Regions from separate parts of the Homo sapiens genome. Here regions 1, 2, 3, 5 and 6 are each reported to be linked to region 4. Evidence: microRNA targets listed by miRTarBase, many of them from high-throughput screens and not tested one by one. Region 4 holds a microRNA gene; each other region holds the end of a gene's coding sequence.

Region 1 (5,028 bases), not on the chromosome of region 4:
GTTTCACCATGTTAGTCAGGCTGATCTCGAACTCCTGACCTTGTGATCCGCCCACCTCGGCCTCCCAAAGTGCTGGGATTACAGGCGTGAGCCACCGCGCCCGGCCAGCTGGAAGATAATTTTTAAAATTATGTCTTGGCCGGCCGCGGTGGCTCATGCCTGTAATCCCAGCACTTTGGGAGGCCGAGGCGGGCAGATCACCTGAGGTCGGGAGTTCAAGACCTGCCTGACCAACATGCAGAAACTCTGTCTCTACTAAAATACAAAATTAGCTGGGCGTGGTGCCACATGCCTGTAAATCCCAGCTACTAGGGAGGCTGAGGCAGGAGAATTGCTTGAACCTGGGAGGCGGAGGTTGTGGTGGGCCGAGATTGCACCATTGTACTCCAGCCTGGGCAACAAGAGCGAAACTCCATCTCAAAAAAAAAAAAAGAAATAAAATAAAATTACATCTAGATCTCAAATCATAAACTACCTGGACTGGTGAGCAGGGTGAGTGGGCAGGAAGCCACAAAAATCTCCAAGTGCTTACTCATGAGGAGCCATCATTACAGCAGTGCTATGGAGCCAGTTTATCCTGAAGGGGCCTTCTCAGCATCTTCCCCCGCTGGAAGATGCAATCATTCTTGGTTAAGTTTCATAAAGAGTTGCAGGAGTCCAAGCCAGGTCTTTGCTACAGGCTGGATTCACCAACCTACCATGCAGCAAATTCCTCCTTGGTCTCCATGAGGGGAACAGTGAATCACCAAAGTGGAATTGCCATAGGATGAAGGTCAGCAGTGTACTCCTTACCACTAGGGGCTAGCTCAACACTCCCTCAGCACAGCCACCCCATGATGGGTCCAGATCAGTTAATGACATTACCTGGGATTATGAAAGTGTTCACTATAACCACAGGGATAGGTGAACTCCCAAGACAGTGACGTAGAGCAGCAGGCAATGATTTGAGTACAGGGCATAACTACTCATGAAAGAGGGAACATCTGAGAAAGTAAGTTGTCAGAAGGAATGGCTTTACATTGTTTTGCAAAAGTGTCTCAAAAACTGGAGTAGTCAGTTGTATCCAATACACCTGAGGAGCCAAGGAAACTGACATCTATTGCGCTCTCTGTATGAGGACTACCAGGAACCAAACTGGGGCACCAATCAGGGGGCACTGTGATCTTTAGACTTCCCAGCCTCCAAAAACAGTGAGGAATGCGCGTGTAAAGCCACCCAGTCTGTGGTTTTTTTTTTTTTTCACAGCAGCCCAAGCTAAGACAGCAGTGAGTGCTCTTACAGGGGAGAAAAACAAAACAAAATATCGAGCCTCGAGGATACATTTGCCCAAATCAGTTAAGTGTAATACCAGGATTCAAACCAATTAGATGCAGAAGCCACTCTATCACCTCTCTTATCACAGGCATACCAGAAAATAAAGCATCCAATTCCAGAAATGAGAAATACTGACTCTGTGTACCACAGAATAAGTGCTCTGAGTTATTCATCAAGGCAGACTCAACAGAAACATGAAAATGTCACATTAACAGGTCCATATTAAATTCAGTCATAAAATTGTATCACTGGTTGAAAAATTAATTTCCTATCACAAACTCTTGATTACATTACACCAACAGGACAGAGAAATTACATTTTTGTTTAAATTGGTCAAGTTGAAGGATGTACATAACAAAAGCCAAACACAGTATCTGATATATCAAACACCAAAATGTTTAATCACATGCAAATTAAAAATCGTATAGGATTTTTTACTCACTTGAGCAGACTGTAGAAAAGGTTAATCAAGGTTGGGCGCGGTGGCTCACACCTGTAATCCCAGCACTTTGGGAGGCCGAGGTGGGTGGATCACAAGGTCAGGAGTTCGAGACCAGCCTGGCCAACACAGTGAAACCTCATCTCTTCTAAAAATACAAAAATAAGCCGGGCATGGTGGCGCACGCCTGTAATCCCAGCTACTCAGGAGTCTGAGGCAGGAGAATTACTTGAATCCGGGAGGTGGAGGTTGCAGTGAGCCACGATGGTGCCACTGCACTCCAGCCTGGGTGGCAGAGCGAGACTCTCGGCAAAAAAAAAAAAGAGAAAAAGAAAAAAAAGAAAAGGTTAATCAAGAGACAGTGCAGTATTTAACATACTGCTGAAGACCGGATATACCTGTATCAGCTAAACAAGCAAAAGCAGCAATTACTTTCAAATAAGTTGTACCTCAGTTTTCGAGTATTATAACTCCACTCCCAAGGTTCCTTGATTGTATTACAAGTTATGTCTAAAACAATACTTTGCTTTTAACAGAAATGGAATTTCATTTCAACCATATATGAAAGCTACACATTTGAAGGCCATTCAATATCATACTTTTATACTTAATTACCTCTGAGAAAATGGAGCAAATTTTGACATTCTTCCACCTTAAAAACATTTTCTCCTACCTACATTCTAACACCCCTTACTCATATAATATTACCAGATATGTTGTTAGTAAAAATCAGTAGTGCTGGCCAGCGTTTTAAAACAAACATCACTAACTACAAAGATACTCTACTTGAAATCAGGTCACAAAAAACCAACGCTGCTTTTCAATTAAAACTCAAAAAGGGCCAGGAGCTGTAGCTCACTCCTGCAATCCCAACACGTTGGGAAGCCAAGGCAGAAGGATCCCTTGGGGCCAGGAGTTTGAGGCCAGCCTGTGCAACATAGCGAGGCCTTGTCTCTACTAAAATTAAAATAAATGTAGCTGGGTGTGGTAGTATATGCCTATAGTCTCAGGTACTCGGAAGCCTGAAGTGGGAGGATCACTTGAGTCGAGGACTTTGAGGCTGCAGTGAGCCATGACTGCACCACTGCACTTGAGCCTAAGTGACAAAGCAAGACCCTGTCTCAATTAAAAAAAAAAAAAAAAAAAAAGCCTAAGAAATAGATGACTATTTTCTTTATACTTTTCTGTATTTTAAAATATTTTGTAACAATTATAAGTCAAGAAAAAATTTTAAGTGTAGCCCTAAACTCCAGCTCCGTTTTGCAAAATAAGGCATAAATTAAAAATTGTGTGCAAAATCGTAATCGATGCTTGGTCTTAAGTTTGACTGTTGTGGTACTTGAAGGATAATGAGTAGAAATTCAATGACTCAATGAAAATGACAAATGCTAAACATACACCCAAAACAAAACAAAAAAGCTAATTAAGGAGTTACAATAAAAATCTTTATTTAGGTTTGGTCAGTACAGGTAAGATATACTGGAGTCACAGAGCAATATGCATTAACAGGATACAACAGTTCATAAAAACTGAGTAACTATGCACACAAATTTCTTAAACAGTCACCTAAAGAGAAAATGCACAGATGTATGGTGGAAAAAACTGTATCTAACACTGAAACTACTACAGGACTCCATCAATGAGTCCAACTTTTAGTGATAAAAAACTACTGTACTGGGCAAACTTGGCAGTCATAAACCCACATCTACTCTAACAAGTCTGAATGGTGCATAAGTACAGTAACAGCATGAGTACGAATGCCCTTACACAGCACAGATTCTAAACAGACAGATTTATACAGACATCATTGTGTTGTATTTTAAGGAAAAATTTCCATTTACAATTTCACATTAACTCATATAAAAATAACTTGACCCTACACAAAATGTCCTTTTAGCAACATTCAAAGTAATTAACTGTTACAATTTCCAAAGCGGCAGAAGTATTGAAGCAAAAAAAAAAAAAAAAAAAAAAAAAGAAAAGAAAAAAAAAACAAAGAAAAAAAACAACAAAAAAAAACCAAAACGTACACCCACAAAAAGGCAAATTGTGACAAAAGTATGCATTAATTTTCTGGACAGTATCCTCTCCCAAATTAAATGACACTGTATAAAAATTTGCTGAAAAAATATTACAAAACTGAACCCTGTACATTTACACTTGAGTCCAAGCCATTCTGAACGTGGCGGGAACCCACAGTTCGATTACCTTTCCCACTCACTGCTTTCTCCTCTTGAGGGTCATGACTGGAGTCTGTGTCATTTGATTGGTGTGTGAGAGAGTTTTCACTGCCCGTGGGAGAGTCTACACTTTCATACCCCGCACTGAGTTGATTTACGTAACCACTACCTCCTCTGCCAGTTCTCTCCTCTGAGCTGTTGGAGGACTTATTACCATTCCCTGGAGAAGAAGGAAAGTCATCTTCGGTTGTGTTGCCCTCCCTGTGAAATCCAGACCCAGACGTCCTCTGGCGGGAGGAGCTACCATTACTTGGTCCGTTTGTCAGACGACTGCAGTCTTTACTTGTGGCCTCTGACTGTTCTACAGGTTCAGAAGCTGTAGTCCTGCTGGTACTTGGGGCAGAGGCCTGAGACTGCTGCTGCTGGTACTGAGCCAACTGCTGGCGTGTCTCCTTCAGCTGCTGCTGCAGAACTAGAATGGTACTCTGCATACCCTCTACTTCTTCATCAAGCTGGATGATGAAGTCATTCAGTTCTGTGCAAAGGAGAGTCAGACCAACTTTAATATCGTTTATAACATTGAAAAATGTTTCTTTAGTGCCTGCCACAAAGCAAGGGAGTCAATAAACGCTCAAGTAAACAAATACAATTCTAAAATCACACTACATTTAAAAATTTTGCTTGGAATCTTAAAATATGACTGAGTTTGTTTTGGGGGAAGTCAGATACTTAAAATAATATACAGTTGGCCCTCCACATGCAACAATGAATTCAAGCAACTGTAGAAGGAAAATATTCAAGGAAGAAAAAACTGGGTCTATACTGAACATGTACAGATTTTTTTTCTTGTCATTATCCCCCAAACAATACAGTAAAATAACTATTTTCCTAGCATTTATATTGTATTAGGTACTGTTAATCTAGAGATGGCTCAAAGGGGAAGATGTACATAGGTTTATATGTAAATATGACATCATTTTATATGAGGGGCTTACTGTGGGAGGTCCTGACACCAATCCACCATGGATACCGAGGGCAACTGTATTAAGCAACCAAGTTAAAATTGTTTTGATCCATCTTGCCATATGCCTGATT
Region 2 (5,028 bases), not on the chromosome of region 4:
TAGAGTTGTTGCTCAATGGGCCAAAATTGCGGGGCCTTCACACCTCTGCATGCCTAGTCACTGGGTCTAGATATGCCCTAGGAAGGGTGTGACCTCGAGTGAAGGTGGCTGAGGCAGAACCCGAAGGACCTGATGGCTTAATGCTGTGTGCCAACCATGCCATGCTGGGAAGAGCATTGTTTCTTGAAGGGAGAGCTGGGTGGCTCAGCTCTGTGTCCACCACAGGGTGGGTGGGGGAGGGTTAGCAGGTGGCTGGCGGGAGGCAGGAAAATGTTCCCTGAAGGCAGCTGAGTGGGGCCTGTGGTCTTCAGGCATGTTGACAAGAACATCTGCTCTGTCGTGAAGGTGTATGAGAAAAGGACTCTGTGATCTCCTGAACCTAGGAAAAGCCACTAGCTGGGGAACTATTTCTAGGCCACTCCTAAGCATATGTAGGGCCTGCCTGACATCTGCCCTGCTCCTTAGCACTCAGCTTGTATTAGCCCATTTTGTATTATTATAAAGAAATACTTGAGGCTGGGTAATTGATAAAGAAAAGAGCTTTATTTTGGTTTATGGTTCTGCAGGTGGTACAGGAAGTGTGGGGCTGGCATCTGCTTCTGGTAAGGGCTTCAGGAAGCTTCCAATCATGGTGGAAGGCGAAGGGGGAGCAGGTGTGTCACATGGTGAGAGCGGGAGTGAGAGGGAGAGTTGGGGGAGGGACGTGCCACACTCTTTTAAACAACCACATCTTGAGTGAGCTCAGCGAGAACTCACTCATCACTTCCAGGAGGGCACCAAGTCATTCATGAGGCAACTTCCCCCATCACCCAATCACCTCCCATCAGGCCCCACCTCCAATGCTGGGGATCACATTTCAACATGAGATTTGGAGGGGACAAACATCCAAACCATATCACAGCTTACACTGTGGATGTGAACACAGCTGTACACATACACAAAATTTTATTGTAATTTATACTAAAAACCAATCTCCCTACAGCTCCTCGGGGGACAGCTCGCCGGTTTTCTCATTTGCTCCGTTCTGGGACTCGGACAAACGGGGCACAAGGCCTCTTTCTGCTGATACAGGTGGGTCCCAAGTCTGCATTTCCTGTCTGGACTCAGCATCACCAAGGGTTACATGATAGTCTTGAAGGAATGTTGCTCAGAATTTCAGGCGACTGGTCTGGAGGAGAGAAGGGGGCAAGTGCTTACCTTGAACCCGTGCAGGTGGACAGATGTGTGGTGGAGGCATTTGAGGGTTACCTCAGACCACATGCTGACCCACGCAGGGCCAAAGTCGCTCATTGTGTGGAGGCATTTTGCGGTGGAAACACACCTGGATGCAGGGAGAAGGGCTGGGGCCTGGCTCATGCATCAGAGGGTCTCTCTGGTAAGCCTTCTTCCTCCGTGGGACTCTGGAGGGTCTGGAGGCTGTGGCCTCTCTCCTGGTCTCTGGTCAGGTGGCCAGCTGGGAGGACAGCTGCAGTCAGGCCAGCAGGAGAGGGACTGTGACTGTGCAGGTGAGAAGGGTGGTCAGTCTTCACCCTCAAGACCAACTCAGAAGGCAGCCATTTCAAAGCGTCTCAGGCAGCCCAAGCTTGCTGGCCAGTCCACAAGCTTGGCCAGTCATCTTCACTGTCATGGTTGCCCTGGGGCAATGCCCGTAGCAGTCAAGAGACAAACCCAAAAGGGAACTAGGTACTCCACAAAATAAGGCTTTTCTGGGGTCCATTTTTGAATGGGAGTGAAGGAACCAGAATTGGGTAGCACAGGTGAAAGTCAGAGGCTGAAGGGGAGGGCAATAGGAGCCTCCTAATAGCAATGGGGCTCCTCTGATGGCTGCCATTGCTTTGAGGTCACCCTGACAGTCTTGCTGAACCTTTCTTCGATTTTGAGCTTAGCAAGCTCCTACTGGACCTTCTCTCCTTCACTGGGGCTCAGCTTGCAGGGGTTCTAGAAATATCTCCACAGATCGCTCTTCCTCCCTGGGCCTCAGTTTCCTCATCTGCACAGTGAGGCCTATTAAGCCAGGTGTTCTGACTTTATTTTTATTTATTTATTTTGAGACGGAGTCTCGCTGTGTCATCCAGGCTGGAGTACAGTGGCGTGATCTTGGCTGACTGCAAACTCTGCCTCCTGGGTTCAAGTGATTCTCCTGCCTCAGCCTCCTGAGTAGCTGGGATTACAGGTGCCCGCCACCACACCTGGCTAATTTTTGTATTTTTAGTAAGGATGGGGTTTCACCATGTTGGCCAGGCTGGTCTTGAACTACTGATGTCAAGTGATCCACCCACCTCAGCCTCCCAAAGTGCTGGGATTACAGGCGTGAGCCACCGGGCCTGGCCTGTTCTGACTTTAAAGGTAGGGATTCAGAGGCAGAAAAGAGGAGGTAGACTGAGAGGTTCCTGGGGTTAAAGGCTGGCAGGGAAGCTGGGCAAATGTACAGAAGAGCCCCCTGCTTATGTTTCAGGGGCCAGGGCAAGAGTGTACATGGAAGCCTACATACCATGTGGCTAAATATTTAAAAAGCAAACTAACAAACTGTTGAATAAAGTATGTTCTATTGGTTGACCTTGAAAAAAGTATTTTTCTGATGAGTGACCTGTAAGGCCAAGTTTGAATGAAAATTCCTAGACTCCTTAGAGTCCCAACTCGGAGCATGCGGTGTGGAGAGAGCTGGTCCAGGGCCTCAGCTGTGGCTACAACAAGAATGTTCTCCCACTCAAGATCTCCTGCTCTAGGGAGCGGGGCTGACCAGGGACCCCTGCTGCTGTGCTCTGAAATCTATCTTTGCTGTTTCCGCCAACCACTGAGTGCAGCAGGGATGCTAACGGGGTCTATTTGTGGGAGACACGGGGCTCTTCTGATGGCTGCCTTTGTCTTGAGGACACCCTGACAGCCTTGCTGAACCTTTCTTTGATTTTGAGCTTAGCAAGCTCCTGCCAGACATTCTCTCCTTCACCGGGGCTCAGCTTGCAGCTCGACTTACTGGTCCTCCCAATCTTCTCCGGCTCCCTCCTTCTTTCCTTACACACAATCATTTCCCCTAACAAATCTTTGTTCCATTCACTCTATCTTGACACATATTCTTGGAAGACTTGGGCTAACACATTGGTCCCCCGCCGGCCCCCCTTTATCTTCTTACCCCTGGCTTCTTCCCACACCACGAGAAGCCCCATGCGCAGGTGTATGGAGCCTCAGGTACCAGGCTCTAGGTGGTGGCAGGCATGTCCCCTTGGCCTGCAGTCTCCTCATCCCGCGATGGTGTGGGGAGTGACGCAGGGCCATAGGGAGCAGGAAGGGGGCCCCTCTTGTCCGAGTCTAAAGTGGTAGTGGCAGGGAGCCTGTCCTTCCCCTGCCTTCCCTCCACTCCAGCCTCCTGACCTGAGCAGCTCTTTCTCATGCTCCCCGCCTCTGTGCTTTTCCAGAACACACTTTGTAACCACCTGGGATGGAGGTGGTGAGCATGTGTCCCAAGACCCATGCTTGGGATATATGCTCAGTGGTGGCTCCATCTGTGTCTTCTTTCACCCTCAGGAGAGTCTGGTGGAGAACAGAGGAAACTGAGGCTCAAAGACATTGAGTGAGCGTCCACACCCAGGTCTTCTGATGCCCACCGCGGGCTTTGCCAGGACGTCCCAGCCAGCAGAGACAGCCACGTGGTATCTCACAACTCCCCTCTCAGTCCCTAAGAAATGAGTGTGCCTTTCTTCTCATCTTTAAAAAAGAGCTGCTTCTTTCTACCTTGCAGCAACCCGACTGGGAGAATGGAGAGCCAAGCGTGTTGTCCCCAAGGCCAGCTAGACACCAGCCCTTCAGAACTTATCGTTATATTTGCAATCTGGGTAACGATAGGCAAATCTGGAGTCACACGTTCTCAGGGGCCTCAAGATGTCTTTCAGCTGGCTGGCGGCCCCAAGGACTTCTGGGTCTGGGCGGATGCTGTCCCCACACTGAACAAGGATGGAGTCTATGTCGTCTTGCACTGGGGAGGGGAACCTCCCCTGGAGAAGTCGAGGCAGCAACTTCTGACACACCAGCACCAGGCTCTGCTTCTCAGAGATGCTTTCGCAGGAGGGCAGCTGGGCCTGGCAGCCGGAAACCAGGCAGCTAAAAATGTCTTTATTCTCTCCTGCCCTGTTGGCTTCTTGGCTGCCTAGAAAAGAAATGGGAAGTATTACACACCCTGCCACCAGTGCTCCTTGAGGGAGGGCACCACTAATTAGAATTCCTGGGTGGGGCCGGGCGCGGTGGCTCATGCCTGTAATCCCAGCACTTTGGGAGGCTGAGGCGGGCAGATCACTTGAGGTCAGGAGTCCGAGGCCAGCCTGGCCAATATGGTGAAACCCCGTCTCTACTAAAAATACAAAAATTAGCTGGGTGTGGTGGCATGCATCTGTAGTCCCAGCTACTCAGGAGGCTGAGGCTGGAGAATCGCTTGAACCTGGGAGGCGGAGGTTGCAGGGAGCCAAGATTGCACCACTGCACTCCAGCCTGGGTGACAGAGCGAAAAGCCATCTCAAAAAAAAAAAATTACTGGGTGAACTAGTATAGTCTCCTAGCATTTCCCTGTCACCAGGAGATTTAGGACTCAGGGACACAGTGGCTCCTTTTGAGAACCACGTGGAAAGAATCCACTCTGCTACAATAGAGTGAGGCCTGGGCATGGAAAACCCACTTACCCCTACCAGAAGTTAGGCTGATAATTGTAGAGATCACATTCATATTGTTAGACTCTCATTATTACTAAATTAGTGAACTCAGGAAATTATTGGGACTGGTTTCATTTGCGCCTTTAAAATGCAAAGTGAGGGCCGGACATGGCAGCTCACACCTGTAATCCCAGCCCTTTGGGAGGCTGAGATGGGTGGATCACCTGAGGTCAGGAGTTCGAGACCAGCCTGGCCAACATGGCGAAACCCCGTCTCTACTAAAAATACAAAAATTAGCTGGGTGTGGTGACAGTCGTCTGTAATTCCAGCTACTCAGGGGGCTGAGGCAGGAGAATCGCTTGAACCCGGGAGGCAGAGGTTGCAGTGAGCC
Region 3 (5,028 bases), not on the chromosome of region 4:
AGGCTGGACACTGTGGCCCAGCTCTGCATGGGTGTTTATAGTTTATGCCAGTAAATGTTTCTGTTGAATCTGTCAGGAGCTGCAGGCCTGATCCCTTTTCAAGTTGGTGGTGAGAGCAGTGAGTCAGCATATTTGTAAACTTCAGAAGAGTACAGAACACTGATAATTTACTGTGGCACTGGTAATTTCATGAATATGGAGTGGGCCCATATGTTCATTTTTAGCTCTGTAAATCTCAAGAACTGTTACTGCCTTGGTAAGCTGTATCAGTGCATTGGCACCCAGATAAAGAGAACTTTCTGCCTGTCTTGAAGTAAATGAGGCATCAACCCAGACTTGTGTTAGGCTGGCCTTTGCTGTGGTTTTACAGTAGATGCTTCAGAACTGCTTAGAAAGCTCTTTTCAGATGGGAATGTGGGTTGCCTTCTGGTAGCATGGCCTGTCATCAGAGGTGTGGTTCCCCCAGTAGCCGGCCTATGACACGGCGGCTCCAGTTTCTTTATGTAATAAGGTGAGAAAGAGTGAGGAAGAGTTGTACAGAGCAAATGAATTCAGTGTCGATGTCTTATCCAGTGAGCGTTGCTATGGAAAAACCTGTTTGAAAACAGGTTCTTCCCATTAAGTTCATCAGTTTTATGTTTCATTTTTTTCCTTTTGGCCTTTTTAGGACCAGTTCCAAGTGCAGGCAGAGTTCCCCTAGGACTTCTGACTGTGGACCTTCAGCAGCCTCCATGATTTCATCCTTCCTGCTCGGGTCCCTGTTACCAAAAATACAGGGCCCTTATTTTCATATTTGCCCCGGATTTTTTCCTTGCAAGAGTTTCTTGATAGCAAATCCTTCTTTTAAATACTAGAAAGTATGAGGAAGCGTTCTCTTTTCATAGCCAGTGATTTAAAGAATAGTTATTTTTAAAGTAGACTAGTGGGCTTTTAGTGTTAAATGTCTATTGATGTTTTGCCAGAAGAAACATTGATTTTTCTCTTACTTTCTCTTTTTCAGGGCCTGCTTTCTTCCCCGGGCGATGTGCAGAGATCTTTGCCAGGGGTCAAAGCGTCGGGAAGCTTGGGGTCCTTCATCCTGACGTTATCACCAAATTTGAGCTGACCATGCCCTGCTCCTCCCTAGAAATCAATGTTGGACCCTTTTTGTGAAGATTGGTCTCTGTGGTGTGATTCTCTTCCCAGGTGTCCCTTTCTCCTCCCCTAGTGTCCTTAAGTCCTCCTCCACAGGGAACATCTATTTGGGCTTTGATGTTTAATAAAGTAGAAAGCACTGTCTGGCTGTGTGGGTAGAGACCATCCTTTCCCTGCATATTAGGCCAGCTTGTGCCATATACCAGTGTGGTGTCTGTGTGTGAAGCTGCATTGTTGGGTAAAAGCCCCGTGGAGTGCTGGAGAAATGCACTAGCAGAGTGCAGGATCTGTTCTGAAAGGCAGACGTGCTCCTCAGACATCAGAACATCACATTGGAACGGATTACTCCTGCATAACAAGATCCCATTTCTTTCCTTATTGATAAAACAAGATAATCGATGAGAATTCATGTTGCATGAGTTCGAGATAACTGAGGGGTTTAGCTTTGATTTTCTACATTTGACATGTATTCATCATTGAGAAACACTAAAATAACAATATTTTTAGAAAACGTTTAAGAATCAATTATGGTCCAACAATTATAGCTTCTGAGGTCAGTTTAAAGTGAAAGAAAAATCTGTAATACAAGGATTCAAAATATGTGAGGGTGCATAGGTATTTTTTACTCTATCTGTGATACTCTAAGATAGAGTACATGCAACAAAGATCTGTTCTGCTGTAAGAGTTAAAATGGACAAGTATTGATATCAATGCAGTATGAACATTAGGAAACAATGAGAAGCTTATTTTTGCCATAGGCCATACATGTTACTGTAATCAGTCAGTTATAAAATCATGGTTTTAAATACTTAATTGAGCTACTAGTTTCTCTATTGTCCCAGGGAGATATTAGACCTCTCTTTTTCTGAAGCTAAGCTTCAGCCAATCCTCCTTGTTTTATATCCTAATTTCCTTTCTTACTTCAATCTAGAATTCTCCAGTAGGTACCATCTCTGGAAAAAAGCTGGGTCTCATGTTTGAGACAAGTTCCCAGGTACTATTGAAGTAATAAGAAATATGATAAAATATAATACTTTAAAGTCCCAGTAGAAATAGCTAACAAAGGCTGGGTGCGCTGTGGCTCATGCCTGTAATCCTAGCACTTTGGGAGGCTGAGGTGGGCAGATCACTTGAGGCCAATAGTTCGAGATCAGCCTGACCAACATGGTGAAATGCCATCTCCACTAAAAATATAAAAATTAGCCAGGCATGGTGGTGTGGGCCTGCAGTCCCAGCTACCTGGGAGGCTGAGTCAGGAAAATCTCTTGAACCAGGAGGTGGACGTTGCAGTGATCCCAGATTGTGCCACTGCCCTCCAGCCTGGGTGACAGAGTGAGATTCTGTCTACAAAAAAAAAAAAGAAGAAGTAGCTAACAAAGATAGTGAAATAAGAATTATGTTTATGGATCTTTTGCTGAGTCTACTACTAGGAGAAAACCTGACCATATTACAACCTTGAATTGGGGCAGCAGTGTCTAACTCTGTAAGATTTGTGAACACACACACTTCCAGCTGACCCTTCACAGCTCTGTTATAAGCAGATCCTTACAACATTTTAAAAATGAAATATGCCCTCTAAAAATAATGCATGCCAAAAGGACTTGTATCCAGCATGCATAAAGATTTCTTAAAACTTAATAATAAAACTTAATAGTAAAAATAAAACAACTGTTTTTTAAAAATGTGCAAGAGTTGAGCAAACATTTCCCAAAAGATGACATATGAATGAGCACTTGAAAAGATCCTCAACATCGTTAGTCATCAGGGAAATGCAACTAAAATTCACAATGACAAACTGCATACCCATTAAAATGGCTAAAATTTAAGATTCATAAATCAAATACTGCTGAGACTGGAGCAAGTGGAACTTTCATGCACTGCTGGTGAGTCACAATGTAAAATGTTACATTGTGACTTTAGAAAACAGCTTGGCAGTCTCTTGAAACATACACCTACCATCTAGCCATTCTATTCCTAGGTTTACCCATATGGCCAAAGATTTTTATGCAAGTGTTCACAGTGTTACTTATAGTAGTTACAAATTGCAGTATATCCATACTATGAAATACTTCTCAGCAATAAGAAGGAATGAACTACTGATCCTCAAAACAACATGAATGAATTTCAAAACAGTATGCTAAGTGAAAGCAAGAGACACAAAAGACTCTATTTAATTCTATTTACCTGAGAGTCTAAAAAAGTCAAAAGCAGGTGGTCGGCAGGACCTCAGGAAAGAGAACTGACTGCAGTGGGTTAAGAGAAAACTTTTTGGGGTGATGGAAATTTTATCTTAATTGAGGTGGTAGGTGTACTTCAGGTGTAGGTTATACCTTTGTAAAGCTGGGAGAAAAAGAATGTAATGTAACATGTAGTATTTTACTGATTTTAACTACATAACACCAGTTGATAAATGCCTAGAGAAATAGCCTGAACTGTAGAATTGGCAGTTGTGCTCAAGGTGGCTCACTGGTCCACAGCTATTAATGATATATTCTCCCTTAGTTTCAGGTTCGCTCTAGTTAAAATCATGGCTTATGGATCATCATATGATAGCCCTTGTTGAAGTAGGTGGAACCATTTGTTCTGTCAGCAGCTACCCACCTGGATATTTTTGGGGGTGGCCAAAATTACTTGTAATGAAAAACCCACTAATGCCTAATTGTATATCCCAGCATGAAAGGGGAAAGATCAACTCCATGCATCATGTAGATGTTTCTGCCCTCGGAAGCAGGAAATGGTAGGCAGAAAAACAGTGTCGGCTGCATTGGAAGAAGCGAATCCAGCTCATGAGTCGAGGCTCTGCAGCCAGATCATCTTACACTTGTCCCTGGTGAAGCATTTGAACTGGAGCCAGGGCAGTCTGTGAGTACTGCCAAAAGCCTTTATTACAGAAGATGCACACCTTCTTAGTAAAAACTGGGAGCTCTAGTATTAAAGTGAAAATTAAATGGAATTGATTTTTGTTCTAGCTTAGAAAAAACTTAAATTCTACCACTACAGCCTCACAGTCCTGCAGTGCTCTTCTAGTTTTGTTTGTTTTTTGTTTTTTTAGACGGAGTCTCGCTCTGTCACCCAGGCTGGAGTGCAATGGCACAATCTTGGCTCACTGCAACCTCCACCTCCTGGGTTCAAGCAATTCTCCTGCCTCAGCTTCCCGAGTAGCTGGGACTACAGGTGTGTGCCACCATGCCTGGATAATTTTTGTATTTTTAGTAGAGACGGGGTTTCACCACGTTAGCTAGGCTGGTCTCGAACTTCTGACCTCAGGCGATCTGTCCACCTCTGCCTCCCAAAGTGCTGGGATTACAGGCGCCCAGCCTGCTCTTCTGTTTTTAAATTATTTTTGAATTGATCTTTTTTCACATTTTAATTTTTTTGGTTTAATAACGGTATGAGAGTAGGAATTCTCCCTGATGTGTAGGGTGAAAACAGTTGAGTTTCAGAGAGATCAATAACTTACTCAGAAGTCACATAGCCAATAAATGAGTTTGAGACACTATAAAAGAGTGACTTGGAGTCCACAGACCACTCACTGATTTGCATTATTTACTTATTTATGCGAAAGTAAATAATGGGACTTTCTACACTTTTTAAAAATATAAAAATAATGGGAGACAAAAAGTTAAAAATTGTTAAGTCCAATACTTTAAAAAAACTCTGCAAACTGTGGCCTTACTGAGTTAATCTACCTTTCTTCCTCCTGATTCCCTGAAGTAACTAACTGCTGTTAACAATTTAGCCTGTATTGTTCCTTAGTTTGGACATTTTCCTTGATTTGTACAGTCAGCCACACACACCTGCTCACATTTTTGGGGGTCATGCTCTACTTACTGGTTTGCAACAAGTTTTGTTTTTTATTTTACATATATCTCATGACATTTCACTTAATATGCC
Region 4 (5,028 bases):
TAAACAGGGAAAGTTTGGACTCAGGCCTTTAGAGCACTTGCGGTCTAGTGGGCTTCAAAGATGAAGTGTGATTATTAAGTTATTATACACAGGGCAAGGACGCTGGGGGAGAGGGGATGCAGGGTGTAGTGCCAGCATCTGGGGAGTAATGAACTAGATTTAGACTCCAGACAGCAAGGAAGGGGCAATGTCAGACCCCTGGCATCAGGGACACAGGTTGTCAGTAACAGGTACTTGGACCCAGGCTGCCTGTCTTTTAATTAACATTCAGAGAAGAATGCCCTGATTGCCAAGGATATATTTTCAGCTTTGTGAAGCAAATTTTATGTCAGTTACCTGAGTAGTAAGTTAAATCGGCACTTTAAGCCTCTTTCTTCAGAGCATTTTAGGTACCAAGTTTGAAATCTACGAAATCTAATCCTCACTTAGATTAAATAGTCATTCAGAAGTCAGAAGAGCTCTGCAGATGGCCTGAGAAAGGTTTGAATATTATGGTTAAAACATTCAAGAAGAAAGCTTTCTAGAAACGCAGCTGCTATTTCAGTGCATGTTCAGTTAGCATTTTCTGACTGATAAAATAGAATTGAGAGGGAGGAATGCCAGTCAGGGTTCTATCTATTGAAAGGCTCTCCTAGTCTGCCATCATCTAGACAACAGAATGGTAGTTGTGACGTGGAGAAGTAGTATGAATAGGATCTTCCCACATCTTTAACCCAGAATTACTTGAGGAAATCGGGGTCTTCTTTTCTTTTCCAGGATTCTGCTATGTAGAATTCGATGAAGTGGATTCCCTTAAGGAAGCCTTGACATACGATGGTGCAGTAAGTATCCTCGGGTTTTCTCTGTCATAGCAGTTGAGATTGTTTTCTTTGCCAATACTTACACTATTTTCCCTTTATCATTAGCTGTTGGGCGATCGGTCACTTCGTGTGGACATTGCAGAAGGCAGAAAACAAGATAAAGGTGGCTTTGGATTCAGAAAAGGTGGACCAGATGACAGAGGTGATTGGTTCTTCTAAAGCTGAACATCATAAAGATTTGCAGTATGCCTACCAATTCCAACTCGTGAACGTTCCTAGTAGAACTCGATTATCTCATAGGTGTGATAGGTTCTCGTGAGCTCTTAAAAGTTTGCGTAAAATCCTAGAAAGAATGGCTGATGCTTCTGCAAGCCTGGCGTTTTTTGTTTTCTGTTGGAAGCAAAAGCTCTTAAAATGATTTCATTGAACCTTCCATCACTTGAGTTGTATGTCTTCCAAATGAATTTTTCCATGTTTGCGCAGCAAGGTAATGACACGACCTCAACTTTATCTTTTTTGTGTATCCTCAGGAATGGGTAGCTCTCGAGAATCTAGAGGTGGATGGGATTCCCGGGATGACTTCAATTCTGGTATCAGTATTTAAAGTATCACCACTTAATTTTTCCTAGGAGCCTTGCTGCTGTTCTCTGTTTCTTACGAGTAGCCCGCCTGGCCGGACTACTTATTTAGTTCCTTTAACAAATACAACTCTCCTGCAGGGTGCCCAGGCATGCAAGTAAGCCTCTGTTAGAGCCTGTGGGGGCAGGACTTGAGCCCCATGCACCTTGTGTGGTCACCTTTGTTAGCCTGCAGCTCCTTGGATGTGTACGGGCCTGGGTCCTTGAGCTCGCTCAGCAGTCTTTCTCAGACTCTAGCCCAGGGAAACTCCTCTGTGGTTTTGTGTATGGCACCAAGAGAAGTACTGTTCCTTCTGGAAAACATAGGATAGAGGTTTGGGTTCTTACATGGTGAAAGGTAGTCCTGATGGCCCTTTTTTTTCTTGGAGGATTGTGGGGAGGTCCAGTCCCTTGATGGTGGACCTGATGCACTTCGCCGTTCTCTTTCTTAGCCAACCCAGGCAGAGCAGCTGGTGGTATAGCACAAAGCATCAGTCCACACGCCAGGCCTCTGCCCTGCAGGGTGATTTTAAGCATTTTTATCATCTTTACTTTCTGTTTTTAAATTACAAAAGTATAATTTTTTATATATGCACATGATAAAAACTTCAGTTGTAACCCAGAAAGGTAGGAAGAGAAAAACAAATTTGTTTTCTTTCCCGCAAACTTGGGATGTGCTGTCAATGCTGTGCTGTATAGAACGTCAGCACCCTCCCCCCATCAAAACAAAACCGGTGTAAAGTAGTGGGTGAGTATGGGAGGGACTGGTGCACGCTGTCTTGTGAGTCTGAGATTTTTAAAAACTCAGCTTTGGCTGAACAGGTGACGACTACCTGTTGAATAATATAGTTCTTAAAAGTCCTGTAGCCAGTCAGAAATGAGCTTATTCATAAAAGTGCAGTATGGTGAAGTCAATCTGTAATTTTATGTATAAGCTAGTCTCTGATTGAAACATGCAGCAGCTGTCTTCTTAGAGCCAACCAGCAGCTCAGGGAACGGCCTTTCCCCTGCCAGTTTGGTATTCGCAGGTGTTATAGAAGTTGCCCACATACTAACGTCTTTCTACCCTTGGCTTAGCTTGGCCACTGGCGCTCAAGCAGAGACACAGTGAACACGGCCATGGCCTGGCCGCCACCAGTTCTGGTGGGAACTGCAGTGTTTTGGTGACATCTCAAACCCTATGTGGGCTCACTCGATGGAGTAATGGCTAATTTGATACTTTATACGTTATTTGCGAGAGTAGATCTTTTTTACTTTTTAATAGGATGGTGCTATTTTTTTTAATGATACCTGCTCATGTAAAAAACAAAATAGAGCAACAGAAAAGTACCAAGAAAGCAAAAACATTTCATCATCAGAAATAGCCAGTGTTAAACTAAGCTTTGTAAAGAAAACTCTGAAGATTCTCATGAATAGTTTGCTTCCTAGAAACCCACCAACAGATTTTTTGTTGTTGTTTTTTTTGAGACGGAGTCTTGCTCTGTTGCCCAGGCTGGAGTGCAGTGGTGCGATCTCGGCTCACTGCAAGCTCTGCCTCCTGGGTTCATGCCATTCTCCTGCCTCAGCCTCCCAAGTAGCTGGGACTACAGGCACCCACCACCACGCCCGGCTAATTTTTTGTATTTTTAGCAGAGACGGGGTTTCATCATGTTAGCCAGGATGGTCTCGATCTCCTGACCTCGTGATCCACCTGCCTCGGCCTCCCAAAGTGCTGGGATTACAGGCATGAGCCACCGCGCCCGGCCCCCACCAACAGATTTGATGAGAGATCCTTGTTCATCTGCTTCACCAGCGTGGTGTGAGCTATTTGTTTCACGCTAGACATTGGTGGTCGAAATCATTTAATCTCATAGTAAAGGGTGTAAATTTACTTTGTACTCACGTGGAAAGGTACACTTCACAGTTTAGTTTGGGGGAAACGTGAAGTTAAATGTTTTAATACTAACTAGGCTTGTTCACTGAACTGTGTAATGTGGGTAAAATACTTTGTAAAGGACCTTATACTCGACTGTATGCCTCCCAGTGTATTTCCCCTAAAGCAGTGCTCTTATTGGTCTAAATCTGTTCAGACTTGCTTTCATTACTTGGTTTGTTAAAATTTATTATTTAACTCAGTCTCTGAACTGGGTGTGAGATCCCTTGGTTTCCAAAACCCTTGCCACCTTTAAAGAATAGAAATCGGCCCCCACCACAGGTGATGCAGTCAGCGCTTATCATTGGAGGTGGTTCTGTGGAGTTGCTAGAACACTGAATGAGCCCGTGCGGTGCTGCTCCTGTGTGCTACAGATCACAACATTTTCGTCAGCTGATCATACCTAACATTGCTTTATGTGACTTTTTTTTTTTTCTTTTTTTTTTTTTTGAGACAGAGGCTCACTCTGTTGCCCAGGCTGGAGTGCAGTGGCATGATTTCGGTTCACTGCAATCTCCGCCTCCAGGGTTCAAGCGATTCTCCTGCCTCAGCCTCCCAAGTAGCTGGGATTACAGGCGCACACCACCACACCCAGCTAATTTTTATATTTTTAGTAGAGACGGGGTCTCTCCGTGTTGGTCAGGCTGGTCTCGAACTCCCAGCCTCAGGTGATCTGCCCACCTCTGCCTCCCAGAGTGCTGGGATTACAGGCGTGAGCCACCACACCCAGCCTATGTGACCTTGATTTTAAAGACGCCTCATTTAATGTTAGTGTTGATTCATTTAATAGTGTTAACATTGAACTCAGGGCCAGCTGTAGTAAGTAGTCTGTGGTGCCATCATTTCAGCCTGTTAGAAAGCTCATCCCACACCGGTTTTGTCTGTAAGACACCTGACAGCCAGCCTGCACTTAAGAACAGCAGACAGCACTTCACACTGCACCTGGGGCCACTTCAGACAGCGATGTCACCAGAAAAAGCCCAAAGGGCAAAACACCCGACACTCATCGTGAAAAGACTTGACAGCTAATAACTGAAACAGGCAGAGCATTATCGTTTTCTGCCTCAGCTGGGATCGTCGCATCTGTGCAGGTCCAGGACTGACTGGAGAAATGCTGCTGGTATCTAGCTTGGGATTACACATGAATTTTAGCGACTGGGTGGATTTGCAAATATGGGATCTGTGGATAATGAGGATGACTGTATAGTGCATACTGCGGGCTCTGGGGGTTCTTCTCAAAGACAAGCTCCCTGAAAGCTTGGAGCCTTGGCACCACTCTCGCAGAGAGTAGCAGTGGCACCCCCTGAGTGCGCAACCAACAGCAGCAAGCTCATTTGTTTAATTATGGTTTAACTTCTTTTCGCCAGTTTTTTTTTTTTTTCCTTGAGACAGAGTCTCACTTCATCACCCAGGCTGAAGTGTAATGGCACGATCTTGGCTCACTGCACCCTCTACCTTCCAGGTTCGAGCGATTATCCTGCCTCAGCCTCATGAGTAGCTGGAACCCCAGGCGTGCGCCACCATGCCCAGCTAATTTTTGTGTTTTTTGTAGAGAGTGAGTCTCACTGTGTTGCCCAGTCTGGTCCTGAACTCCTATACTCACCTCCCACCTCAGCCTCCCAAAGTGCTGGGATTACAGGCGTGAACCAGTCTTTTTACCAAATTTTAACATCAGTAGGTTATACAGTTAAAGTTTAGC
Region 5 (4,990 bases), not on the chromosome of region 4:
CCTTTTTCAGAAATCAAAAATCACTAACTTCTACATCACTGGAACTATTAATATCCATGCTCCCAAGCATGGAGACAGTGGGTATAGAGAGTGAAAGAATGAGTCTGATTACAGGTAAATCTTGACATATAAAAACTATAACCTATTTACTGCTATAACTGGCATCTAACAAAACGCATTATTTTGAACTATGGATGAAAGCCATATCTATCCTAAATATCTTCTATCCTCTTGGGTCTAGAATGCTTTGTTCCTCCTACTTGTCTCCTCCTCTACTTCCCTATCCTTCCCCCTAGAAAACCTTCCTTAGGGCCCAGCTAGTTACATATGTAGTACACAAGATAGAGATTGAGCAATCATTTTGCATAGATGCGCCAGTTTCCACTGCCCAAAGGTTGCTCTGGAACATGACTGTCAGGTATCAGAAAGTCCTGCCCCAGCTGCCTCCCTTCCTAAAGTTAGCCCCCATACGAAATCCTCTCTAAGGATTCTGAGACAAAGATCTCTCCAAGAAAGAAGTTTTCATGGTTTTCTTGGAGCTAGAGGCCTTAGAGAGGTAGTGAGATGAGGCCCTTTCATGCCATTAGCTAATGCTCAATGCCAGTAGGCTGCATGTGTTCCTGCAATCCACCAAGGTGAAAACCACAAACTATAACCAGGCTGTTCTGGCTGAAAATACATCTTTAAAACATTTTAACAGTGTGTCCAGTCAGTTTCATCCACTGGATATGGCTGTCAGGTCAGCATCACTCACATACATCTATAATAGTGTATTCTTTCAAAAATTGTTTATACACACTTAATATAGGCATATAGCCTAAGACTATATTGCCTCCCTACCATACTTGTGCCATTGTGGTACCAAAAGCCTGAAGATGTACATAATGTACTTTAAGACATTTAACTGAACAAGTCAGTGGGAGACAGGGCACTATAACACATTTCAATTCAATCTAAGACTTGTATTTGTGAATAGATGTCTCATTATAATTTTATACTTGATACATGAAGATAAGCTACGTCAAAAATTATTCAAAGGCATGATCACAATAATACTTGTTTCATAGTTCTAAGTATTTTGATACACCAGGAAACAAAAATCAACTGGGATCCCTAATGAAAGAAAATTATTTCTTCTAAGTAAAACATGAATTTCACTTCAAAAGTGCAGAAATGTGCTCAGTGTTGAAGTAGGCTAAGCTAACAAGGATGATGGCCTCCTCCTCTGACTCTTCCCATGCTCAAGCTTTTGCATTACCATTTCTCTCCTCCCATTCCACCTTGTCTACTCCTAGGTGACTGCTCTTAAAACACACCTTTTAAAAAGTTCTGTTTAGAGCATTCAACAGCAAAGTAACAGGACCATCAGGGAAATAATATGCTACTTAAAAAGTGACAGGAGGATTTGGGACAACACTCTATCTCATACTATATTGACTACTCAAAGCTGCATAGCTGTGTCTTACACATGCCTACACAAGGCTTGATGAATATTAATGTCATATAAAAAATAATTTTTACAAATCAGCTCTCTTAGTTGTTTAACTTCCCCAGGAACACAAGGCTTAAAGCAAAATTTCAAACTTATGCTTTTTATCCCAATGGGACAAAGAGTGCAACACTGCAAGGAAGTCAGAAAATGCAAACTTAGGTAGCAAAAGTAGGAAGAACCTCCATGTTCCCTTTCTGTTTGTCATTATCTCTCCCCAGTCAAAATCCTAAAACTATTAGTAGTAGTATGAAAGGATATGAAAACAATTTACTCTCCCCACCTATATCATACTGAAACTCTGCTTTAAAGCTCAGGAGAGAGGTGGATGCTCAGTGTTGTCTATATATCCATTATATATAGCTGAAGCTTTGAAATTAAGATGATTAACTCATCTTGAAAGAAACAGCTGCACCAATGTGATAGCAAACAAGCCATTTTTAAATAAAAACTCACTTGAAAAAAGCAAGTGCATATTTTGTGTATGTTTTGAGTGGGGACAACAGAGATCTGGACTAGATTTAAGATTATACGGTATTCTCCAATAGAAAACCCTCTTGTAAGCCCCTCCTGAATACTTAAGACAGCAGTAGGCACAGGGGCTTTCAATAAGTACAGAATGGCTGCTATTAGGAAAGAGAACAAATAAAAGGAGAGCCTACAACACAGTTCAAAATTGATACCTTAAAGGCCATAGGTAATACAGTTATAGGATGTAATCATTATTGCTGGAGCAGTCTATCCCCATATAATAAATTTTGTATTAACCGTGGATAATCTATGAAAAGTTTTAATTCCAGGCGAGATTTTCCGTTGCACCTCTCTCTCTCATACTGTGGGCCATCTCTTACTAATGCTTAGCCTGTATTTGTGTTCTGAAATTCCAAGAAGAGGGAAAAGTCAAGCATATGACAATTCTGTCATGATGATTAACTGCTAATAAATGAAAACTCATTATAGAGTACCTAGCTTTCCTTGATACTTTAATCCAATGATTAAAAATGTGATATAAAGAAATACGTAACATAGACTACAAGCTATCGTAGGTCTGGAACATGAGCCTTATATTATATTACATATTCTAATCCTACATGTAACTATCAGTAAACATCTTTTTTTAAAACATTACTACACAAAGAATTCCACAAAGCATACATTCAAACAAGAGGCATCTAAAGATTAAAAAAATTACCCGCTGTATTTTTGTATAAAAATAATCAACATTCTCTAATGTACACAAAGCCAAAAGATAAATATAGTATCTGTGATGTCTTCAGTGACATCTTTAGTCTTCTACCAGCTCAACACAATCTTTTTGAAAAGAGCAGTGAAAATGACTGAAACTCACGGACTCTTTTTTTCCCCTCCTTACTCGACTTCTGCCAAATATCTGTGTATGTTCCTTCAATTACTAAAATATCTCAATTGTGGTAATATAAGAAAAGATGAAAACAAAACATTCATCATCTCAAATAAAATTTTTGATGTCCAGGACTATAAAGCTTTCAGGGCTTCCACAAACAATTTTGTTTTAGTGTCATAATTCTATAGAACACTGTTCAGTAAAAGGTTTTGCTTTACATTTTTTTCCTCAAACATGTACATACAAAATTATATCCGATGGTTCAAGAGAAATCACTTGGTAAGTGCTTTGCAGGAAGCATGCAAACGTTTGGTAAAGGAAGTAGGAATGTGCATTCTAGCTAGTCCCAGCATGTTCAACAATAGAAAAAAATCCAAAGAGCAACCACGTATCTGCTACAAACTATTTTCTTGCCAGAAAAGGCTGTGCACTAGTTCATAGGTATAATCATATTATGTCTTCGTCAGTGCAGAGGAGCACAGAGGTATGAAAGATAATCAGAATGAATTAGTACTTTCTGAGAGTTAAATTATTTGCATGTTTGTCCTTATTTTATAGGACAATTTGTAGATTTTTTTTCTTTTTCTAGTATGATTAAACTAGAAAAAATTATTCAGCAGAATATTAATGTTATCTGAATAATACTTCCATCATATATGTTTAGTAAGCTTCATCCTTTAAAAGTATTCCTTTGGGTGAAAACAATATTTATCACTCCTTCTATATCAGAGTTTCTCAACCTTGGCAGTACCGATATTTTTGAACCAATAATTCTTTACAGTGGAGGGGTGCTGTCCTGTGCATTATAAGATGTTTAGAAACATCTCTGGCTTCTAACTACTAGACACCAGTAGCAACCCTCCCCTGAACCCACCCCCAAGCTGTGACAACCAAAATGTCTCAACATTGCCAGATGTCCCCTGGCGATCAAAACTGACCTCCACTGAGAACCACTGCTCTAAATAAATGTACAAAAACTGAGAGGAAAACGTTCTCAGTCAAACCAAATTCTTGGTCAAGTTTGGAATAGAAACTAACTCTTCTCACTTCCAGATCAGTATTGTTCATACTAGAACACAATTCCTTTTTTATAGATAAAGCATATGTCTAAAAGACATGTTTTTTAAAATGTACACTGATTTCATACGATTCTGTCACTGGACTACTAAATTATTCCATAATATACCTCTCATGACAACCTTTAGAAAACTAATAGGGTAGAAAAAATGTATAAGAAAATTGAATCAAAAGAGGAGAAATGTAAATCATTAAATTACTTTTAAAAGGATTCTTTATATTAATGATAAACATCACCTTTAAAAAAATTATCTAGTATAACACATTTCTTTGAAAAATATCATGGCCCTCTGTAACAAGTCTTTCAATGTTTCATGTAACCTGTAAAATTAATTTTACCAATGTTTATTAATTATGAAAATGCATGATGAATTATTATACCTGTAGAAGAAATGTCAGTATTTGATGTGGAGATCCCAATGTGCTTGGCTATCCACCACAATAAGTGTCATATTCTAGACCAAGTTAGGCCTTTACCTTACAAGTTTTTGTGAGAAAAGTAAAACTGCTGTTTTATCAAGGCTTCATGTTCCTGTTAAGATTCCTTCAGAGAGTTGATGCGTGCACAGATCTTCAGGGCTGGGCCTAGCTTGATATTCATTGCACTCATGAGATGGTCTTCTTTCAGCAAGAGAAGGGCCTGTCCATCAATCTCCTGTGCTCTGAATTCATCTGCGATATCCTGGCAGCCTGGAATTTGACCAGAGGACAGAAGTTAGAATTAAATATACAACAATTAGACATTACTCCTAACAGTCACAGTTATGCTCTCACTGGGTCTGAGAATCTGAAATACAGGCTGAGAAACAAATGAAATTTATTTATGGTAGTCTTGAGTTCACTCTTGAAGAATAGAGTATTTGCATTCTGAAAATAAGAATTCAAAATCCAGGTAAAGCAATTTGCTTGGAATTCTTGCTCTAAAATAATGTTATAGAAATAATTCATAAGAGGGAAGTCTAGATATAATACTTCCTTCACAAAAAGGACTATGGTGTTACCTCAAAGCATGCCACATAACAGGTTTGGGTTAACTAGTTATACCTCATGCACTTATCTCT
Region 6 (5,028 bases), not on the chromosome of region 4:
CGGGTGAACTTGGGGCATCACACTATTGAGGTTGTCTCGTGGATGTCACTCAGTTGCCACATAAATAATGAATTCCTGGAGGCAGCAGAATATGCTCATACTGTATTATGCTTGAACAAGCCTAGGCAGAGGTTGGCTTTTTCCTCCTAAATCACATGGGAATTAAGCATAATTCCTCTGGCTTATTTTCCCCCACATGCAGGGGTAAAGTTTGCTTAAAATACTCAGCTAGTTAATAAATACAAGGCTAGTTGTTGTTTTCAGAAGTTAGATCTTGGTCACGAATCTGTGTCAGTCAATACTTGCATGATCACAGTACAGAGGTGCCCTAAATGGAAACAACGTGGAAACAGCTCATTCAGTTTGTTGTCAGAGCAATAGTTTCAGACTGTTCCAGAGTGATAAGCTTCTTCCATGTCTTTTGGTCCCATAAATGTAAAGCGATGGAATGACTGGGTGAACAGTTAACCGTGATGAATCATTAACATGGAGAGACTTTCTGCTGTTTCTAAGCTGTCACCTCTAAAATTATTTATCAAAGACATTGGTCTTAGATGAGATTTGTAGCCAATCACTTATACTTAAGGGGCTTTAAAATCTTACAAGTTTTAATCATTTGTTTATCAAAGAGCAGAAGGAATCTGCACTTTGGGAGGCCGAGGCAGGTGGATCACAAGGTCAGGAGTTCAAGACCAGCCTGACCAAGATGGTGAAACCCTGTCTCTACTAAAAAGACAAAAAAATTAACCAGGCATGGAGGCAGGTGCGTGTAATCCCAGATACTCAGGAGGCTGAGGCAAGAGAATTGCTTGAACCCGGGGGCGGATGTTGCAGTGAGCCGAGATTGTGTCAGCCTGGGTGACACAGTGAGACTCCGTCTCAAGAAAAAAAAAAAATCCTTGAAACACTATACTGCATTCTGATCTTTCTTTCTTTCTTTTTTTTAAGACAGAGTTTCACTCTTATTGCCCAGGATGGAATGCAATGGTGCCATCTTGGCTCACTGCAAACTCCGCCTCCTGGGTTCAAGTGATTCTCCTGCCTCAGCCTTCCAAATAGTTGGGATCACAGCATGTGCTACCATGCCCAGCTAATTTTGTGGTTTTAGTAGAGATGGGGTTTCACCATGTTGGTCAGGCTGGTCTCGAACTCCTGACCTCAAGTGGTCCACCCACCTCAGCCTCCCAACGTGCTGGGATTACAGGCGTGAGCCACCATGCCCGGCCTGCATTCTGATCTTTCATCATAAATAAGTAATTCTATTTCATTTCTTATTTCATTATTTTAATAATGAGCTTAAGAAGTTTAGTCTTTGGGGCGAGGATATTCTTACTCAATGCGTTATGTCAAGGCTTCCCAACCTTTATCACATTCTGGCATATCTATATCATGACAGTATTCATGCATCTATATGTGGTTGGAAGTGACCATCCAAGAGCTGGCTTTCCCGAAGGAATCAGTTTCACTGGGTGGAAAGTTTTGCTGTTAATTATCTCCCAGCTGAGTGCTCTGGGGCAAACTTGTGTTAAATGCTGCAGGCCCACTTGGGCAGATGGCTCTAGCTAGGGTGGCATGAGCACCACTGTAGCACCAAGAGTGAAAACTGATGGGTTTTTTGTTTTTGTTTTTTGAGATGGAGTTTCGCTCTTGTTGCCCAGGCTGGAGTGCAATGGTGCGATCTTGGCTCACCAGAACCTCCGCCTCCCAGGTTCAAGCAATTCTCCTGTCTCAGCCTCCCGAGTAGCTGGGATTATAGGTATGCACCACCACGCCTGGCTAATTTTGTATTTTTAGTATAGACACGGTTTCTCCACGTTGGTCAGGCTGGTCTCAAACTCCCAACCTCAGGTGATCCACTCGCCTCGATCTCCCAAAGGGTTGGGATTACAGGCGTAGCCACCGCGCCCAGCCGTGAAAACTGATTTTTAAAAACTTTTTTAGGCTGATTGTGGTGGCTCGCGCCTGTAATCCCAGCACTTTGGGAGATCGAGGTGGGTGGATCACGTGAGGTCAGTAGTTCGAGACCAGCCTGGCCAACATGGTGAAACCCCATCTCCACTAAAAAAATACAGAATTAGCCGGGTGTGGTGGTACATGCCTGTAGTCCTGGCTACTTGGGAGGCTGAGGCAGGAGAATCGCTTGAACTCAGGAGGCGGAGGTTGCAGTGAGCCGAGAACCCACCATTGCACTCCAGCCGGGGTGATAAGAGTGAAACTCCGTCAAAAAAAAAAAAAAAAAAAGGAAAACAAAACTTTTTTAGAGGCTTAATGCAGTTTTCTTAATTTCTTCTAAAGGTCTCAGCCTAATCAGTTCTGTAATAGGAGCCTTGTTTCAACAGCAAGTCAGAATTTGGATTCTGTGGGTGCTTGCATATGTATGTTTTTTATTTAAAGCAATGACATGAATCGATGCCTTTTAAAAATACTGCTTAGAGTCTAAGCTCTTCAAGTGCACCAAAGCTTAAATATACTTGATAATAATCATTTTGGACAGCCAAGCAGACTTCCTGAAAACTTAACTAAAATAATACCTTGAAAAGTGAATACCTTTCACTGATTTCACTGAGATGGTTTTGATTTAGTTTGAATTCTATCCATACTATGGAACCTGTAGTGACCCTGTCCTGAGGTCCATTTTTTAATTTTTATTTTTGAGACAGTGTCTCACTCTGACACCCAGGCTGGAGTGCAATGGTGCAATCTTGGCTCACTCCAAACCCCACCTCCCATGTTCAAGTGATTCTCCCGCCTCAGCCTCCCGAGTAGCTGGGACTATGGGCACCTGTCACCATGCCTGGCTAATTTTTGTATTTTTAATTGAGATGGGGTTTCACCAAGTTGCCCAAGCTGGTCTTGAACTTCTGACCTCATGTGATTGGCCTGCCTCGGCCTCCTAAAGTGCTAGGATTACAGGCATGAGCCACCGCGTCCGGCCCTGAGGTCTAAACAAACATACAAATATTTTTTCTACTCAGCAATTTGGGATCCTTCCTCGCCATACTGATAGATGTCCAGGGAAAATGTAAATCCCCTGATGTTTTTCCAAAATGCTAGCGCCCCATTAACCTAACAGGTGGTTGAAAATAAGCAATTTCATGGAAAGCATTGTGGTGGCTGTAAATCCGATGGTAACCTTTTTGACCTCATCCATGCCAACTCTGCCCCAGGAATGCTATTAAAATTCTCCTTCGGTGATTCGTGTCTGGGTGAGTTGATAAGACAGAGTAAAGATTCCTAAATGTAGAACTATGACGACATCTAGATTGTTCTGCTTTTAAGAATAGGAGTGTTATCGATAAGACCAGCTTGCACTTTAATACCAAAAGAGAACTCATTCAATTTTTTTAAGTTGACTTTTAATGAGTAAAAATAAAAACCCCTCACAAGTCAAGTTTACTCAGTAGCCAATAGCCTAAAATGAAATTTTAATTTTGCTTGTTCACATAATTTTGGGTTTTTTTTCCCCTTCTCTGTTCTGACTTCTCTCAGTCGAGCCTTGGCGACAGGAAAAGAAAAAAAAAAAAGGCGTATTTCTCTTCATGCCCCTCTCACCCCAGTAAAAAGTAGGAGAAAAAGAATACACAGATTAAAACAGAATTGTATTATACATTCACTTTTGAGTTATCAGGTGAACTTAATTCACTCCAGAACAATCACAGAGACAAAGACAGGCAAGCTGGGTTTTAGGCTCTCACCCTTGACACTCCAAATTGTGCTGGGAGTGGCCAAGGCTTTGTTAGAAATGGCCCTAAGGGTATATACACTGCCTCAGCTGCCTTGGGCTTCATGCCCTGGGCTCCTCCACCAGGGCCAGCCCCAATAGGTCTTTAGTTCGAGGTAGAGGTTCTGCTGTTATTTCCCAGGTGAGCTAGAAGCAGGTGAGTAGCAAGCACTCTCTAAGACTGCTTTTTATTGTGTGGTGACAAGTTTCACAATTGTGCTGATGATCCGGGATCCTCGAGGACACGTACACAGATCAATGCTTGGGTTTTTAATTTTATCCTGGAGAAGCTGATCAAGTTCGCAACGAAGCTCCTTTACCAGTTCAGCCACCTAAAATGAAAGCTACAATATAAGCAGTGCTTGGAGGAACAGGCAGGATAGGTTATTGGAGGGAAATACCCAAGTTATGATTACCATTATTTAGATTTCTGGTACTAATTTTAACTCCATTAGGAGCAAAAACCCTAAATACATTTTCATTTTGTAATAGACTAAATGAGGTCCATTGTAAAAAAGTGCCTCTATCACATCTCATCTAAAGAAAAGATTCGGGCCAGGCGCAGTGGCTCACGCCTGTAATCCCAGCACTTTGGGAGGCCAAGGCGGGCGGATCATGAGATCAGGAGTTCAAGACCAGGCTGGCCAACATGGTGAAATCCTGTCTCTACTAGAAATACAAAAATTAGCGAGTTGTGGTGGCATGCGCCTGTAATCCCAGCTACTCAGAGGCTGAGGCAGGAGAATGGCTTGAACCCAGGAGGTGGAGGTTGCAGTGAGCTGAGATCGCGCCATTGCACTCCAGCCTGGGTGACATAGCGAGACTCTGTCCCCCCTGCTCCCCAAAAAAGAAAAGATTCAGTCTGGAAGTATGGCTTTTATATAGTGTTCTCCATATTAAAGTTTGGTCAATTTTTATGATTTATTCCACGAGGAGAAGCAGGAAAATGGGGAATTAAAAGTGGTAGAGAGGGCCGGGCCCGGTGGCTCACGCCTGTAATCCCAGCACTTTGGGAGGCCGAGATGGGCAGATCACCTGAGGTCAGGGGTTCGAGACCAGCCTGACCAATGTGGAGAAACCCCGTCTCTTAGTACTAAAAGTACAAAATTAGCTGGGATGGTGGTGCATGCCTATAATTCCAGCTACTTGGGAGGCTAAGGCAGGAGAATCGCTTGAACCTGGGAGGTGGAGGTTGCGGTGAGCCAAGATTGCGCCATTGCACTCTAGCCTGGGCAACAAGAGCGAAACTCCGTTTCAAAAAAAAGAAAAAAAAAGGAAAAGAAAATTTACTGATCACCGATCACTCC

The links. Region 4 holds the annotated microRNA hsa-miR-590-3p (UAAUUUUAUGUAUAAGCUAGU, at 2,337-2,357, shown strand). A microRNA usually pairs through its seed, bases 2 to 8, with sites in the 3' UTR of a target mRNA and lowers its output. Matches are read on the target gene's strand: a 7mer-m8 pairs with bases 2 to 8, a 7mer-A1 pairs with bases 2 to 7 and ends in A, and an 8mer does both.
Region 1: the mRNA of WTAP is a reported target of hsa-miR-590-3p. Seed matches in the 3' UTR shown: 7mer-A1 at 3,820-3,826.
Region 2: miRTarBase lists DIPK2B as a target of hsa-miR-590-3p. Seed matches in the 3' UTR shown: 7mer-A1 at 2,195-2,201 and 7mer-m8 at 942-948.
Region 3: the mRNA of FARSB is a reported target of hsa-miR-590-3p. Seed matches in the 3' UTR shown: 7mer-A1 at 2,330-2,336, 7mer-m8 at 2,911-2,917, 7mer-m8 at 2,951-2,957, 7mer-A1 at 3,758-3,764 and 7mer-A1 at 4,074-4,080.
Region 5: miRTarBase lists PHC3 as a target of hsa-miR-590-3p. Seed matches in the 3' UTR shown: 8mer at 4,260-4,267, 7mer-A1 at 1,512-1,518 and 8mer at 988-995.
Region 6: miRTarBase lists DHX57 as a target of hsa-miR-590-3p. Seed matches in the 3' UTR shown: 7mer-A1 at 3,445-3,451, 7mer-A1 at 3,427-3,433 and 7mer-m8 at 3,422-3,428.

Annotation. Positions count from the first base shown.
Region 1 is chr6:159,754,468-159,759,495 of GRCh38, reverse strand. It overlaps WTAP (WT1 associated protein), which reads right to left. Exons shown (of 8, transcript NM_001270531.2): 8 at 3,177-4,468. The coding sequence ends at 3,885. It also overlaps a transcript of SOD2 not described here. Among named protein-coding and RNA genes, the nearest start is that of ACAT2, 5.1 kb to the left of the region's middle.
Region 2 is chrX:45,147,852-45,152,879 of GRCh38, forward strand. It overlaps DIPK2B (divergent protein kinase domain 2B), which reads right to left. Exons shown (of 5, transcript NM_176819.4): 5 at 522-4,141. The coding sequence ends at 3,801. Among named protein-coding and RNA genes, the nearest start is that of DIPK2B, 51 kb to the right of the region's middle.
Region 3 is chr2:222,567,995-222,573,022 of GRCh38, reverse strand. It overlaps FARSB (phenylalanyl-tRNA synthetase subunit beta), which reads left to right. Exons shown (of 17, transcript NM_005687.5): 17 at 1,001-5,028. The coding sequence ends at 1,152. Among named protein-coding and RNA genes, the nearest start is that of FARSB, 86 kb to the left of the region's middle.
Region 4 is chr7:74,188,917-74,193,944 of GRCh38, forward strand. It overlaps MIR590 (microRNA 590), which reads left to right and starts at 2,282; the gene lies at 2,282-2,378. EIF4H (eukaryotic translation initiation factor 4H) reads left to right here. Exons shown (of 7, transcript NM_022170.2): 3 at 757-821; 4 at 906-1,002; 5 at 1,331-1,390.
Region 5 is chr3:170,092,766-170,097,755 of GRCh38, forward strand. It overlaps PHC3 (polyhomeotic homolog 3), which reads right to left. Exons shown (of 15, transcript NM_024947.4): 15 at 1-4,619. The coding sequence ends at 4,465. Among named protein-coding and RNA genes, the nearest start is that of GPR160, 57 kb to the left of the region's middle.
Region 6 is chr2:38,794,390-38,799,417 of GRCh38, forward strand. It overlaps DHX57 (DExH-box helicase 57), which reads right to left. Exons shown (of 24, transcript NM_198963.3): 24 at 3,340-4,053. The coding sequence ends at 3,910. Among named protein-coding and RNA genes, the nearest start is that of GEMIN6, 19 kb to the left of the region's middle.